4 linked regions of the Homo sapiens genome follow. The protein of the gene in region 1 purifies or fractionates together with the protein of each later gene. This does not show direct contact. Each region holds a gene or a part of one and is shown on either strand. Other genes may lie near its edges.

Evidence for each region. The genes of interacting proteins can lie anywhere in the genome.
Region 2: the proteins of TENM3 (region 1) and TSPAN5 purify together in Homo sapiens (co-immunoprecipitation; one large-scale study listed by IntAct). This does not show direct contact.
Region 3: the proteins of TENM3 (region 1) and EVA1C purify together in Homo sapiens (co-immunoprecipitation; one large-scale study listed by IntAct). This does not show direct contact.
Region 4: the proteins of TENM3 (region 1) and PACC1 purify together in Homo sapiens (co-immunoprecipitation; one large-scale study listed by IntAct). This does not show direct contact.

The regions. Positions count from the first base shown.
Region 1 is NC_000004.12:182,246,402-182,249,901, forward strand, and holds part of TENM3 (teneurin-3), read left to right. Parts: intron 1-3,500.
Region 2 is NC_000004.12:98,648,612-98,652,111, reverse strand, and holds part of TSPAN5 (tetraspanin-5), read left to right. Parts: intron 1-3,500. UniProt on the Homo sapiens protein: Part of TspanC8 subgroup, composed of 6 members that interact with the transmembrane metalloprotease ADAM10.
Region 3 is NC_000021.9:32,503,206-32,506,705, reverse strand, and holds part of EVA1C (protein eva-1 homolog C isoform 1 precursor), read right to left. Parts: intron 2,781-3,500; coding exon 2,691-2,780; exon of another isoform or gene 2,603-2,690; intron 1-2,602. UniProt on the Homo sapiens protein: Binds heparin.
Region 4 is NC_000001.11:212,412,087-212,416,374, forward strand, and holds the start of PACC1 (proton-activated chloride channel), read right to left. Parts: upstream 2,801-4,288; 5' UTR 2,672-2,800; coding exon 2,636-2,671; intron 1,995-2,635; coding exon of another isoform or gene 1,812-1,994; intron 1-1,811. UniProt on the Homo sapiens protein: Chloride channel gated by pH that facilitates the entry of chloride ions into cells upon exposure to extracellular acidic pH. Involved in acidosis-induced cell death by mediating chloride influx and subsequent cell swelling.

The DNA of each region.
Region 1 (3,500 bases):
GCCCCGCTCTGAAAGAGCACAGGAGGTAGAAATGTCTTCCTTTTCTAGGATATAGATGGTGTGGGTATCAAAGCCATTGTTGACAGGAAGGAGGTGGTGTTGGATAAGAGACTAAAAATAGAGCCGGAGTAGTAGTTTGAATCCAGCAAACCAGCCCTCCTTCTAAAATTCTGCAGCACGATCCCATCACGTAAGAATGTGTCTCGTCCGTATGTGACAAAGACACGGTTTTATTGACCTTAAACAAATGGGCTATGTCTGCCAGAAAAGCTTGTGCCGTCTTGACTGTATTCATAAGAAATAGAGAGATATGAATCATGCCATGTAGGTTCCAGGGCGGGGGCGTTCCCTCCCTCTCGTCCTTCGCTTTGCCTTGCATTATTGCAGACGACAGCAGTGCAGGGATGAACTCACTTTCTAGGGAGGAAGCCGCCAGTAAATAACTAAACAAAGAAGATAAGTTCCGATAATCATCGCTGTTAAACTGAGACTAAAACGAGAGATGAGGTAGTGACTGGGAGTGGAGGGGAAGTTGATTGAGGTGGATCACGAGGGATGCCTCTCTGCGGAGGCGATGCCCACATCGAAGCTCTCAGGATGAGACGGAACCAGCCGTGTGGGCAGCTGTGGGAGGACGCAGAGATGGGCAAATGTAAAGATGCGAAGAACACCAGAAATGGTGTTTTTGAAGGACAGAAAAATATGAGTCGAGCTAGAATCTAATGAGCAAAGAGAAACGAGTTAGATGTGATTTTGGAAAGGGAAGGCAATGTGTTTCTCTGTGTGCTGATCAGTCCTGAGGTGCTGCAGCAAGAAATTGACATATAGAGGTGGATACCAGAATGGTGAGGAGTTTGGAAGAAAAACCCTATGAAGAGCGCAGTCGGAACTGGGGGTTGGTTGTCTTACGAAGAGAAGACTGGAGAGAGAGCCATGATAAATGTCTGATTATTTGAGATGTGATCTACTGGAAGCATTACACAGATGATGGTTCCATAGAGTGGCCCTCAGACCATTGAAAGGGGCCATGGCTAAGGCAGAACTCACCCGCCTTAGAAGGAAGCACTTTAACCCTTGACCTCATCCATCCAAAAATGGAACGAGCAGCTTCACAAAGCTGCGCTGTTAGTTTCTAGTCACAAAGTGTTGTTAGGCAAGGACAGCTTTAATTTACTAGATTTTAAGATTTTTCAGGCCAGTGACTTTGTTTTCTGTCCATGTTATATCTCTGGCAAGTACCTGCGGGTGGATGCTCAGTCAGTGTTTACTGAAATGACAAATAAGTAAATCGCAGTAGCAACTGGACCAAGGATGGCTCAGGCAACCTCTCAGATTATACCTAATTCTAGGATTTTATAATTCTGTGATATGAGTAAAAGCAGAATTATTTTCAATACTTAACAAAATTTTATTGGGAAAAATAAAGAACTGTGAACATTGGTGAGAAGTCTTAAAAATAACTTCCCAAACTCTAGCAAATGCACCCTCACCCTTTCCCTGCAAAGCTCCCCACGCAAACTCTTCTGTGTTTCCTAAGCCATGAAGTACAATAGTGCCATTGCTGTTTGTCAGTGACATAGAAAATATTATTTAACTTTATTTAATGGGGGATTTTCAGATAATTTGGACTTCAAATATGCAGTTTTGAAAGTTGATCTGAAATACATCACTTATAATTGCCTTTAGGCTTTTAAGCAAGCATATATGAAATACATTTCATTATTTTATTCACTATATTTCAGTTAAAATTTGCTTTTAAAATATAAAGTGCCTGGGTGCAGCAAACCACCACGGCACACGCATACCTGTGTAACAAACCTGCACGTTCTGCACATACATCCCAGAACTTACAGTATAATAAAAAAAATTTTAAATAAAAATAAAGTGTCACTAAAAAAGTATATCAATAGTCTTAGCCTTATTGTCAAAGAAAAAAAATGGAAATTCTTAGACCATTTTCATCATTCAGAGTATAAAAAATGTTGACATGTACTCTATTGTACAGTGATCAAAGGCATTATTGTACATTCTTTAATTTGAGGTGATTCTTCTAATGTGTAGTACCAATTATTCTGATCTCTGCTGAAAAGTGATGACATGTGGTATTTTTGTTTAACATAGATCTAGTAAGTTGGGTAATTTAAGTAGATGGTTAAATATACTCAGTACCTGAAATAAGCTTGCGTATATGAAGCTTTGATTTATGGAACTGGCGGAGATTCAGTCAGTAACAATGTAATTTTAAAATAGCATCTGCATTGAGTGGATTACAAAGGAGACCACGATTTTCCTTCATTCATTCAACAAATAATTACATGCCTACTACGTGCCAGCTCATATTTGAAGGCCTGGGATACCACAGTAAACCTGACAAAAACCCTGCTGTTACCGAGTTCCTCATAACTACCAAAGGGTTGCAAATGAGATGTGGAAAGTTCTTTATAACCATATATATCTACAGAGCACTTTATAGTTTACAGAGCACTTCCCCAAACACCTTTAGGCCTCTAAAACCTATGAAAAAGGTGCAATAGTAATAGCAATAGGACAATAACATAATAAACATGTATTGAGTGTTTACTATGTGCCAGACCCTCCTCTACAAACTTTATATGTTTTAACTTGTGAATTTTCAGAACAACCCTGTGAGGTGTATAGTTTTATTCCGATTTTGCAGATGAAGAAATTAAGACACAGACAGATTAAATTCCTTGGCCAGAGCTGCATAGCTAATAAGTGGTAGAGGACATGCTATCACCCACACCACCAGCTGTGGAAATGGGAGTCATGTGGTCATGAGTTACCTGGGTCGCGCAGCCAGATGGAAGTGGAATTTAGGTTTTCCGATTTCAGGGCCAGTGCTTTTCTGAATGCACTGCAGCTGCCTACCTCCAAGCAATGACATTGTTAAAATGATTAGTAAGCTTTTGCTGAGTTAAGCTGTGATAACAAATAATCCCCAAATCTATGACTTACAACAAAGGTCTATTTTTTTACATATTTTGTGAGTTATATGAGTTGATAGTGGCTGTACTCCATGCTGTTTTCGTACTAGAAGGAGAAACTATTATCTCACATATTCTGCTCTCACAGCAGGAAAACACAATGGTGGACCATGCACTGGCTCTTAAAATCTTCTGCTCCATCGTAGACTGAACCGCTTCCTCTCACATCTTCTTGGCCAAAGCAAATCATACAACGAATGGGGTGGGAAATGTACGTCCCCCCACAGTGAGGGCACTAAGTGGTGGTGGTGGGGGTTGGGGACCTCTGAGGATGGGTCTGATAGAGAGGGGTTGCAAATATTTTGAGCAATTGTGATGTTTTTATATAAATATTCTTAGTTAGTGGTTTTTATTTTTTATTTATTTAGTTTTTTTAGAGACTAGGTTTTGCTGTGTCACCCAGGCTGGAGTGCAGTGGTTCAGTCATAGCTGATTGTAGCCTCACACGCCTGAGCTCAAGGGATCCTCCACCCAGCCTCCCGAGTAGCTGAGACT
Region 2 (3,500 bases), about 84 Mb from region 1:
GAGGCTGGAGGATGGCTTGTGCCCAAGAGTTTGAGACCAGCCTGGGTAACATAGTGAGACCCTATCTCTACAAAAAAAAATTAAAAATTAAAAATTAGCTGGGTGTGGTGATGCGTGCCTGTAGTCCCAGCCACTTGGGAGGCTGAGGTGGGAGGATCACTTGAGCCTGGGAGGTTGAGGCTGCAACTGCACTCCAGGGTGACAGAACAAGACCCTGTCTCAAAAAAAAAAAAAAAAAAAAAAAAAAGTATGTTGAAGGAAAGAATTACAAAATCATCAGAAAGTACGTAGGAATCATCTCCTCTAACTTCCTAGTCAGTGAAGCATTCTCCATTGTATCGTGCCTACCTTTCTAAGCATGGATCTGTTTTTGGACCACTTTAATTGTAGAGTTTCATCTGTTCAAACTAGATGTTATCTGTCTCCCCATCATTTCCATCCTCCTAATTTACTGTTCATTTAAAATTTTTATTTGGAAACATTAAACCAATAGGAAAATTGCAAGTAGTATAGAGAACCTGTTTTTATCCTGTTTGAGACAAAGTTGCCAGCATGTTGGCTATCACACAAACAGTTGAGTATGTATTTTCTGTAAACTGGACTATTCTCCTAGATCACCACAGTACAACCATGAAAGCCAGGAAATTACCAATGATACATTAACACCATTTAATCCTTAGATTTCATCCAAGTTTCCCAGTTGCTCCCATAATGTTTTAAAGCAAAAGAATTCAGGTCAGAACCACACTTTGTATTTAGTTACATGTTTTTAGTCTCTTTCAGTCCTTCACTATCATGCTCTTGATACTTTTGACAATTATAAGCCAGTTATTTTGCAGAATGTCCCTCAGTTTGTGTTTGTGCCATTTTCACAAGCTTAGATTCAGGCTGTGCATCTTTGGTAGGAATAGTACAGAAATGGTGCTGCGTTCTCATTGTACCCTATCAGGGTGGCATTGATTTCTGTTTGTCCCATTACTGATGATGGTCACTTGATCAAGGTGTTGTCTGCCAGGCTTCTCTACCATATAGTTACTCTTTTCTCATTTGTAATTTATAAATGTTTTATGGCAAATTACATTGAAACCATGTAAATAGCCTATTCCTCATCAAATTTTCAATCTGTTATTTATTTATATCAGTAAGAACTTAGTGTCTTCCTTTTTTCAGTGTGGTTTAATGTTACTGTCATTACTTTATTTAAAATGGCCCTAGGTTTGGCCAGTGCAGTCTTTTCACATTGGCTCCTGTGCTCTTTTAACTCCCATCAGTCTTTGAGCACCATCTTGCTCTCTGGCAGAATAAGATGTTCCAAACTCATTTTGTGATTTACCTGTGTCATCTTTTGTATCAGACATTTCTCCAAGGAGCTATTGAATGGAGAATGGAATTTAGAAGCCAAGATCTGGTTGCTTGGTGTGCTCATTGCTATTAGGGTGTTGCTACTCTGTGTATATACAGACACACATGTACATCTGTAATTCTGTATCTATGTACTTTTAAAACCATGAGTTTACAGTCATACCTTAAATTCCTGTCTGATACCACAGGGTTTAGTTTTTCCTCTCCATATTTTATAACTGCTTTATTTGACAGTGAGATTCTTGGTTCGCATTATTCTTAACAGTTTACTTATTTGGTAAATCTCCCCATATGTAACCAATCTTCTGCAGCTGCCACCACCTTTCCTCCTGGGGCTGCCCTCCTCAGCTGTTAGTGCTCTAGCATCCTGTGCCACCACCCCCATCCCCATATGGATACCTTTCTCCCTGAGATACCCTGCTCTGGGCTTCCACAGCATCCCTCTTCCTACGTTTTTGTAAACGTAGGAAGCCTACCAGATTGGACCTACCTAATGGCTTTGAATTTTCAGGAAGGAGAAGGCGAAGAGCCTCGGCTACTCTTGAATGATGTAAAATAAGACTTATCTTCCTTCCCCATGGTCCTTCATTATTTAAAAATAGCCATTATGTCATTCCTAAACATTCTGTTTTCCACCTTTAAAAGCTCCTAGTTCCTCCATGTGTTTACACTAATGATGTTTTTCTTGTAAGCATCTCAAAGAGTCTTCCAAACATATTATATCTTTGTGACAGATGAAGAAATTGGAGTACAGAGATGTGGAGTAACTTTTGAGATGTTGAAGAGCATGTCAGGGTTCGGTTTTAGAGTGTTAGGTCTACATATACTGTTTCCAGATTGTTCTTTGCCCTGGTCACGGTGCTCTGCCTAGGGTCCCATTTGGACACACCTCTATTAATGCAGCAACCAGAATGAAACACGTTGTTCACAGGCTTTTCTAACCATCCGAAGAGCAGCAGGCTCTTGAACTCTCCCTTCAGTCCCTAGGCTGTGCTGTGCCTGGTGGCAGAAGCCTCTGCTACTGTCTGGAATTGACTTTGAGTAAGTTACTTTCACAGATTAGTTCCTCAGTTGCTCATCTAAAAAAACCAGGAAAATAATTTTCTGCAAAGTTGTTATCCAGTATTATGTGAGATCATGCATATCAACGTGCTTCATAAATGGTAAATCTCTAAATACAAATACTAGTTATTAACCCAGGCTAAACTGCACTTGCTTTCCCTGGCAGCCAACGAACACTTTGGCTTGGATTGACTTTTTAGTGAAATAAAACCTTCACTTTTTCAAGTGAACTCTATTAAACCATCCCCCTAAGCTATATGCTAATCAGAAGCCCTAACCCTCCAGTTAATTATTTGAATTTAGATTTAGTTCTGTTTATTTCTCCCATTTAAATGTCTTATTCTGGCCCATTGGATTTCAAACCTGCTACCAGCAATCCTAGGCCTCCTTGAGGCGTATGTGGGTGGGTGGGTCTGTGCTGGTGGGGTGTGGACTGAGCAGTACCTCTCTTTCCTCCAGAAAAGCTTGGTTATTAGTTTGATATTTTGGGATACTAAGAAAGATTTTGCTTGAAAAAAGGGGTCCCACCACTTAAGAAAGAAAAGAACCAGTATTCTAGCCTTTAGATGTCTTTGAATCTTGATGGCCAAAGTACATTTTTAAAAAAATTACTCCTCGTGTGGGTTTTTATCTCTTGGAATCTCTCCATGCATGGGAAGTCCCTCTCACTAACTAGGGGTCACTTCTGTAGGATTAGTTGATATTTCACCCCTTTATGCATGTAGTGTGGCAGCCTGATTAGTAAGGAAATTTCAGTCTTCCCACTGGGAGATCTGGTTCAGTAGGTCCATCCAGGATGGGGTCCTGGAATTTCTGTTAAGAAAAAAATCAAAACTTCCTGCAGGTCATTGTGATGCCCAGCTGAGTTTGAGAAGCTTTAGCTTGTTTTTCTTGGGAAGATGTGGCCTCTCCTTCCCGTTGCTCCCTGGAGGGGATGTGTGGGAGAGCTGGGCGTGGGTGGTGTAGAGCGGTGACCATTTCACCAGCACATGAAGCTAGTGTTCTTTGCTTACGAGAAAAAAAAGGTGGCCTATTTTATCCCTCATGGAATTTTTTATTAATCCAAAAACGCCAGT
Region 3 (3,500 bases), on another chromosome or scaffold:
TGGCCTGCAGACCCCTGAGCATGCACTGCATGCTTCCCACCTCTAGAGTGGCCACCCAGACAGCGACATAGACACACCAAGAAAACCCACAGGCAAGCCCAGAGGCACCTGTTCTACTAGGGCTTTGTGAGCCTCTGTGATTTGAGTCACGAGCTTCTTGTGGTGATTTCATTTAGCTAACATCCAACACAGTGCATTTAGAGACTCTTTCTCTTGGACATTATATGGAGGCGTGGTCATGGTTTGCTAAGATAAATGTCACCAAACACCCCTCAATAAAATCAAATAACAGCTCATCAAGTCCTTACATTTTAAAAAAATGGACATCTTATAAATAGCAAATATTGGATGACAATAAAGCACAGGAAAAAGCTCATAAGCCCATATCAGCAGTCATCATTCAGTTGTTCCTTAACTACTGACTGTGCACCTGTTCTGTACCAGCACCGCATCCTAGATACAGGGATACCACACAAAATAAGATGACAAGGCACCTGACCCTGTGGAGCTGAGCCACTAGCAGGAGAGATAGTCACTAAACGAATATCTCTATCCTGTGGTTTCTGGGAATGACAATCACATAAAAGGATAGAAAGAGATGGAGGAAAGCTAATTTAGACAACTCAGGATCAGAGTGGGGAGGTGGTTGCATCCCTCAAAATTCAGAGTAGCTGGAGTGCAAGCCTTGTATTAGCTGAGCCTGAATCCTGGCCCTGCCGCTGTCCATGGTGTCCTCAGGCAAATGGCTCAACTCCTCTGACCACCGGCTTCAAGTGCAGAACAGGGGATCAGAGTCCCATCTCTCAGGGTTGTTGCTATGGACTGAATTGTGTTGCCCCCAGTTCACTCATTAGGAGCTAATTAAGGTTAAAGGAGGCCATAAGGGGGGAATCCTAATCTGATAGAATTGGTGGTTTTATAAAAAGAAGAGATGTCTCTGTCTCTGTCTCTCCCCCTCTCTGCCATGTGAGGACAAGCAAGAAGGCTGCTGTCCACAACCCAGGAAGAGAGCCCTTACCGGAAAGTGATTGGTGGATACTTTGATCATGAAATTCTGGCCTCCAGAACGGTGAGAAAATCAATGTCTGTTATTTAGGCCATCTGGTCTCGGGTACTTTGTTATGGCAGCTGGGCTGGCTAAGGCAGTTGTTGAGAGGAACGGACAAGGTAGTTGGGGTAAAGCACACAGCAAGGCCACAGCTCACTGAGCGCAATGTCGGTCTCGTTCCCCTTCAATCGTTATTCTCTGTCTGGAGGATTTTCATGATGGCTTTTCTCCAAGAAGCTCCCCAAGGACTTTGTAAATATGGGGATATTTCTGACAGTAAAAATCCTTACAGTTCTTAACATTGACAATGATCAGGAACAGCAAGACATGAAAATGAGAAGGTGGCTAGAAAAGAGAGGACCCACAGAAGAAACCATCAACCACACAACACACACACAGGAGGAATCCTGACGCAGGAGGACAATAGAACAGCAGGGGACCCCAAGACTGAACTTTGCATCTCATGTATTGAGATCATTCCCCAATATGGTTTGGCTGTGTCCCCACCCAAATCTCATCTTGAATTATAGCCCCCATAATCCACATGTGTCATGGGAGGGACATGGTGGGAGGTAATTGAATCATGGGGTGGGTCTTTCCCATGCTGTTCTGGTGATAGTGAATAAGTCTCACGAGATCTGATGGTTTTATAAAGGGGAGTTCCCCTGCACAAGCTCTCTTGCCTGCTACCAAGTAAGACGTGACTTTGCTCCTCATTCACCTTCCACCGAGATTGTTAGGCCTCCCTAACCATGTGGAACTGTGAGTCCATTAAACCTCTTTCCTTTATAAATTACCCAGCCTCAGGTATGTCTTTATTAATAGCATGAGAACAGACAAATACATTCCCTAAGCCTCTATTTTCCTCTGAGACAGGCTTACCCCAAATAGCCCATCTTTGCAGGCCTTGAATAGCAATACTGTTATGTATTATATTAACATGTATTTTACTGAAGGTCTCTGGTTTTTGTCTCTCTGAACATAGGCAGGCATTGCTGAAACTTGCAGATGGCATTCCAAAATGTGTTCTATCTTAAGATAAGCAGAGAGGGTGGTGAGGAAAAATTGTACATACCTTCCCCTCAATGAAGAGGTCCCCGCGGTGTGGCCGGCCTTGGTATAAGCCTTCTGGCTCTGCTAATTCATGAGGGCTGAGTCTGATTGATCCTCATGGGGAAGACTAACAAGGGAATCCTTGACAACTATTAGGAATAACACTCATGACCCAGAAAGTGGCTCTGTCTTCATGGGGCATGATCTGTCTTGTTTACTAAGTGACCTTCTGGCTCATTTTTCTTCCAGTCAGGGCTGGAATTCAATAATCCTAGTTCCTTCCCGAATTTTAGAGCTGGGAAATGCATTCCTCGGGTTTCTACTTTTCAAAAGCGAAAAATATCTGTGGAGCTCAACTCCTAAATAGTGTGACTTTGTCTGTTTATGTGGTTCTCTTGCTGACTGCCTGGTTACAACTGTGCCTGAACTCAGGCCTCTGTGTTTCTGAATCTTAGAAGTGGTGGTTGGCATGTTAAACTTGAAGTCATCGTCCTTTAGTTATCTGAGTGCTATAATTGAACAGCACATTTATTAACAAGACTTTAGTAAATCCATCAGCATTCTAGGAAGCTTTGATTCATTGACCTACCTCTAATGTAAGCAAAGGCTGCCAGAGAGTTGCTAACAAGAATTCCATCTTTCCTCAGAACCTTCGATCCGCTTGGGTCGAAGTTTATACCTGTTTCATGAAAAATGCAAGACCAATTAATCACAGCTGTTCATAGTACGCCTATTCTAAGACACCCCTGCTGCTCCTACCCCAGGGACCGCCGGAATAATTAAAAGTCACAGAAATCAAACAAATGGGCCTCTGGCTAAATTACAGAAGATTAACCCAGGAAGAGCACTTATTAAATAGTAAGCAGTCCCCGACAATATTAAAGTACAAAAAGGATTAGAAATTGTTTTAAGTGTTGGTTCCAACTTCAGGTGCTGGTCTTCCACTCCACTGTGGAAGGGAATAAGTGGATTTTCCCATCCTAAAGACAGTGACATTCATCACACCCCTCAGAGGCTTAATAATATCTCGCTTTATTTTATTTATTTATTTATTTTTGAGATGGAGTTTCACTCTTGTTGCCCAGGCTGGAGTGCAATGGCACAATCTTGGCTCACTGCAACCATCTACCTCCTGGTTTCAAGCAATTCTCCTGCCTCAGCCTCCTGAGTAGCTGGGATTACAGGCACGTGCCACCATGCCCAGCAAATTTTTGTATTTTTATTAGAGATGGGGCTTCACCATGTTGGCCAGGTTGGTCTCGAACTCCTTACCTCAGGTGATCTGCCCGCCTCGGCCTCCCAAAGTGTTGGGATAACAGGCGTGAGCCACTGCTCCCGGCCAATAATATTTCACTTTAAGCATGGATTTGATGTCTGCTGTGTGGCCAGAGATAAAACA
Region 4 (4,288 bases), on another chromosome or scaffold:
GCCGAGATCGCACCATTGCACTCCAGTCTGAGTGACAAGAGTGAAACTCAGTCTCAAAAAAAAAAAAGAAAGAAAAGAAAAGCAACCAGTGGGAAAGGGCAGGGAGGCTGGTGAAGGCACCAAGAGATATAAGCCACTAGCAGGAGCACAGATAAAGAGGTCTCACTGGCCAAAGGGAGAGGAGGATGTTAGTCCTGGGAAATCTCAAAGTTCCCTGATTCAAGCCTCACTCAGGTTCACCCTGACCCAGGTGCTAACACCCTCCCACCAGGTTCCCTTCCTGACTACCCACAGCCATAATGAGCCTGCCTCCTTGCCTGCCCCTGGCCAAATTCTCAGTATATCCCACCCTCCCCAAGGAAAAATCCCCCCTCAGCAAATAAACCTACTCAGAGCTAGGTACACTCACAGAATGGTTCAGGAAGAAAGACGCCGGCCATTTTCTGGGTGGCCCCATTCTCTGAGGAAGTGAGAGACAGGGACTCCAGAACAGGCCTCTGAAGAAGGCAAGGGGAGGGCACCCTTCCAGTGCCTCCCACTTTGGAGATGCCTCCAAAGAGAAACTGAGTCTACCCTGGGCCTTGGCCCTCCAAGCGGGGTAAGTGCCTATATTTTAATAAACATTTTATAAGCCCTGCTAGGCTGGCTATGTGTGGATGGTGAGGCACATGTTCCTGCTAAGCCAGGACCCCAAAGCATCCTGGACGCAGGAGCTGCCCACACCGTTAACAAGAGCTATCATTCACTGTGGGGTCACCATTTGCCAGACACTGAGCCAAGCGCTTTCCACACCAACTTATCTAATCCCCAAACAACCCTGGGAGGTAGGGACTTTTATTATCTTCATCTTTCAGACAAAGAAACTGAGGCTCAGAAAGTTATGTGACTCAATAAAAGTCACACAAACAGCAAGAGGCACAGCCAGGCACGAACGTGGGCTTTCTGACTTTTATCCACTGTGCTCCACACCCTATAAACCTAAAAACTTTCAGACACATCTCATTCCCCAGGATTCCCCCACTGTTTAGGGTACAGAATCTAGGGGTCATGGAATCCACAGCACTGGTTAAAATCCCTCAGACTCCTTTCAGACAAAGGAAACAGATGGAATAAAGGGGATGGGAGGAGAAATATAGAAATCTGTCCAAGGCCAGATTCCAGCCAAGATCCTACACTAAAAAATGGCAAGCCTTAGGCAAATCTCATCTGCCTTCAAGTTGGCTTCTCCCTCCACTGTAGGGCTAAGCCACCTGCTTTATATAGTCCACAAAGCCCTTCTGTGAATCAGTCTTTTACAAAGGGAGATATGTACAGCAGTAACTATTGACTAAGACAGAAGGCAGCAAGTTCATTATGAGAAGGACAGACAGAAATGCAGACGGGTCTGGAAAGCGGACCCCTATGGAACACATGGAACTTGAGGTAGCCCTTGACTTCTGGGGGCATTTTACCCAATGGAGCTTGGCGGAGCGTTGATGAAGGAATGGAGTGAGCACACGCACAGAGGCAGGAGCACATTTTAAAACTGAGTTTCCACTGTGCCAGACCCTAGGTGGGTTAGGAGGTGGCAAAGGTAATGGGAGACATGGCTGCTGTGCTGTTCAGAGCTTTGGGAGCCTGCTGAGAAGTCTGGACTGTTCTGGGCAGACGAAGGGCAGCGTCAGGTCTGAGAAAAAAGGAATGCTCCGAGGTGAAGGCAGGGCCTCAAGGCAAATCTGGAGAGTATAAGAGACTAAAGGGAGCGATGGTAACACAGTATCGCACTCAGAGGTTACAGCAAACACAGGGACACAAACTGGAGGAGGACCGACCTGGAACTGCCTGACTTTGGCCAATGAGGCGGCACGATGGAGGGGCACAGAAGAGGACGGTTGCCAAAGATGACCAAGGTTTGGGGGCCGAGAAGTGGAGGCGGAGGAGGAGAGCAGTTTCACTAATACAGCTGGAGAAGTGAGGAGGCAGGGCTTGCTTGAAGGAAGCGCTGGACGCACAGCCTGCAGCGCAGGACAGAGAAGAGACAAAGAACTGGAAAGTGATAAAGTCGTGGGAGGAGGTGAGACTGGAGGGAGAGACGAAGAGGAGCGAGAACTAGCAGAGTCCATGAAGGCACTTTTTCAAAGTTAGGTGGTCACCAAAAAACAGGTAATCAATCCTGTCACCAGCCGCGGGGACAGCGAGGCCTTGGGCTTGGAGGGGGAGGATGCCGACGATGCCGACCGCGCATCAGATCTCGCCGGGAGGAGGGCGCGGGCGCTCCACTTGTTGCAAAGAACGCCGGGTTCCTCTGGGCCATTGGGCTGCCGCTCCGGCGGGGAGCGCGGAAGGCTGGGCCTCAGGTAGCTTCAATCATTCACCTGCTGGTTACGGGTCGCGGCGCCGGGGACCCTACTCCGGACCTCGGCCATGCAACCCGCAGCATACGGAGAACGCTGGGCGCCCGCTCCGCTGCCCCGCTTCCTTCCTGCCCCTGGGCCGCTCCTCTGCACCCCGGGAGCCCTCCCCTGACGCACCCGTCGGTCCCTCGGAAGAGCCCTCTGCCGCGCAGCCCCGACACCCCCCGCCCCGCATCCGCCCAGGCCCCCGGGACCCTGCTCCTCCGCCTCAAACTTCCCTTCCGTCTCTCACAACCTCGTACCTCCTGGTAGGATGTGGAGCGCTCCTGCCGGATCATGGCACTGACCAGAGCTTCGGCACACCTGAGACCGCCCCAGCCCGCGGCGCACGGACGCAGCACTGCGGCCGCTGCACCTGGACCTACCGGCTCCGCGAGGCGAAACCGGTCCGGAGGGGCGTCCCAGAGACCAGGCGTGGCGATACTCGGCGCATGCGCCTGGCCGCTGCCGCCCAGGAGTCGCGAAAGTGTTGATGGGAAATGTAGTTCTGGGCGGGGGCGCCCCTCACACCAGCTCTCACCCCTGTGGCGGAGGCCTGCATGTGACCCTGGGCCAGCTAAGCTGGTCCTTAGACGCGTGCCTCTGCGTCTCTCACTTCCTCTCTTTGTTGGAGGGGGAGGGACGGAGAAGAGGAGTGGAAAGTGGAACAAAGTCAGATGAGTAGGAGCCCCTAATCTATAATTGCAAGAGGAAGCTTGGCCTGGCGGTTTAAAACGGTAATAAATGTCTGGAGAGCACTTTGTATGTTAGTTACAAAGCGCTCTCACTCACATTATGCCGTTGATTCTGCAAGGAACCCTGTAAGAAGGACATTTTTCTCCCTAATTTACAAATGAGGAAACTGAGGTACTTTGTTTCAGAAAGGATGCGGGTGGAGCGGTAATCAAATGAAGATTATTTCATCCAGGGGTAGACTGCGGAGCCCATGTTCTCTCCATTATTCCAGGGGCAGGAGTACCCCTAGGTTCTTGTCCTGGCTCTGACCCTCCCCTTTAGGTCTTGCAATGCTCTGAGCCCTCCTCTCCTCGCCTTAGAATGCAACTGCTAAACCCTGCCCTGCCTGACAAGGCCTATGAAAGCAGAAAGGAAGGATCGTGCAGAGAAAGCCTAAAGCCGCTGTTCAGCCACAGAAGAAGCCTCAAGCGCTAGATGTGGCGTCAAATCTGGTGTTGGCCCTGTGGCAGGGTGGACCTGAAGACCACATCTTCCTCTCCTCCCACTGCCTGAAACAGCTGTTGTGTGAGGGCCCTCGGCTCCTCAGTGGTGAAGCAGATAGAGGCTGCTTGTTGTGCCTTGGTGAATGCTGCTCTGTGTCCCTTGCAGCTGCAGCTTGGTAACCCCTCCACTCAGGCCACTGGGAGCCTCTTCTCTCCTCAGTGATAAGCAGAATAGTGCCAGCCACATCAAAGAACCCTGGACCTCCTGGAGCATTAGCAATGGGAGGTCCCCATCACCTCTCCTGACCACTCACCCCTATCCTAGGCCCTCTGCTCTTAAATCTGTTATATGGGACAATATATATAGTGCCTAACACATTGTAGGCACTCGACAAATGTTTGTTAAATTTATGAATGGAACACTGATTCCAGCCATTTCATTTAACAGTTGCTTACCAAAACAAATTAACAATAGCAGACCACTAATTAAATTCCTTACTGTGTTAATACAATGGTACTTGATAGAACAAGTTCACACCATCATAGAATATTAGAGCTGGAAGGAACCAGAGAATTCTATTCCAACCCTGTCATTCCTCTCTAGTCTTTGTTGGTGTGACCAAACTGGAAAATTATGGGCTCCCACATTTGAAGGAGATACTGGCTAATAAAATATAAAATATGGCTTAACAAATACAATGTGCTGGGCACTGGGATACAGAAATGGATAAGATACCC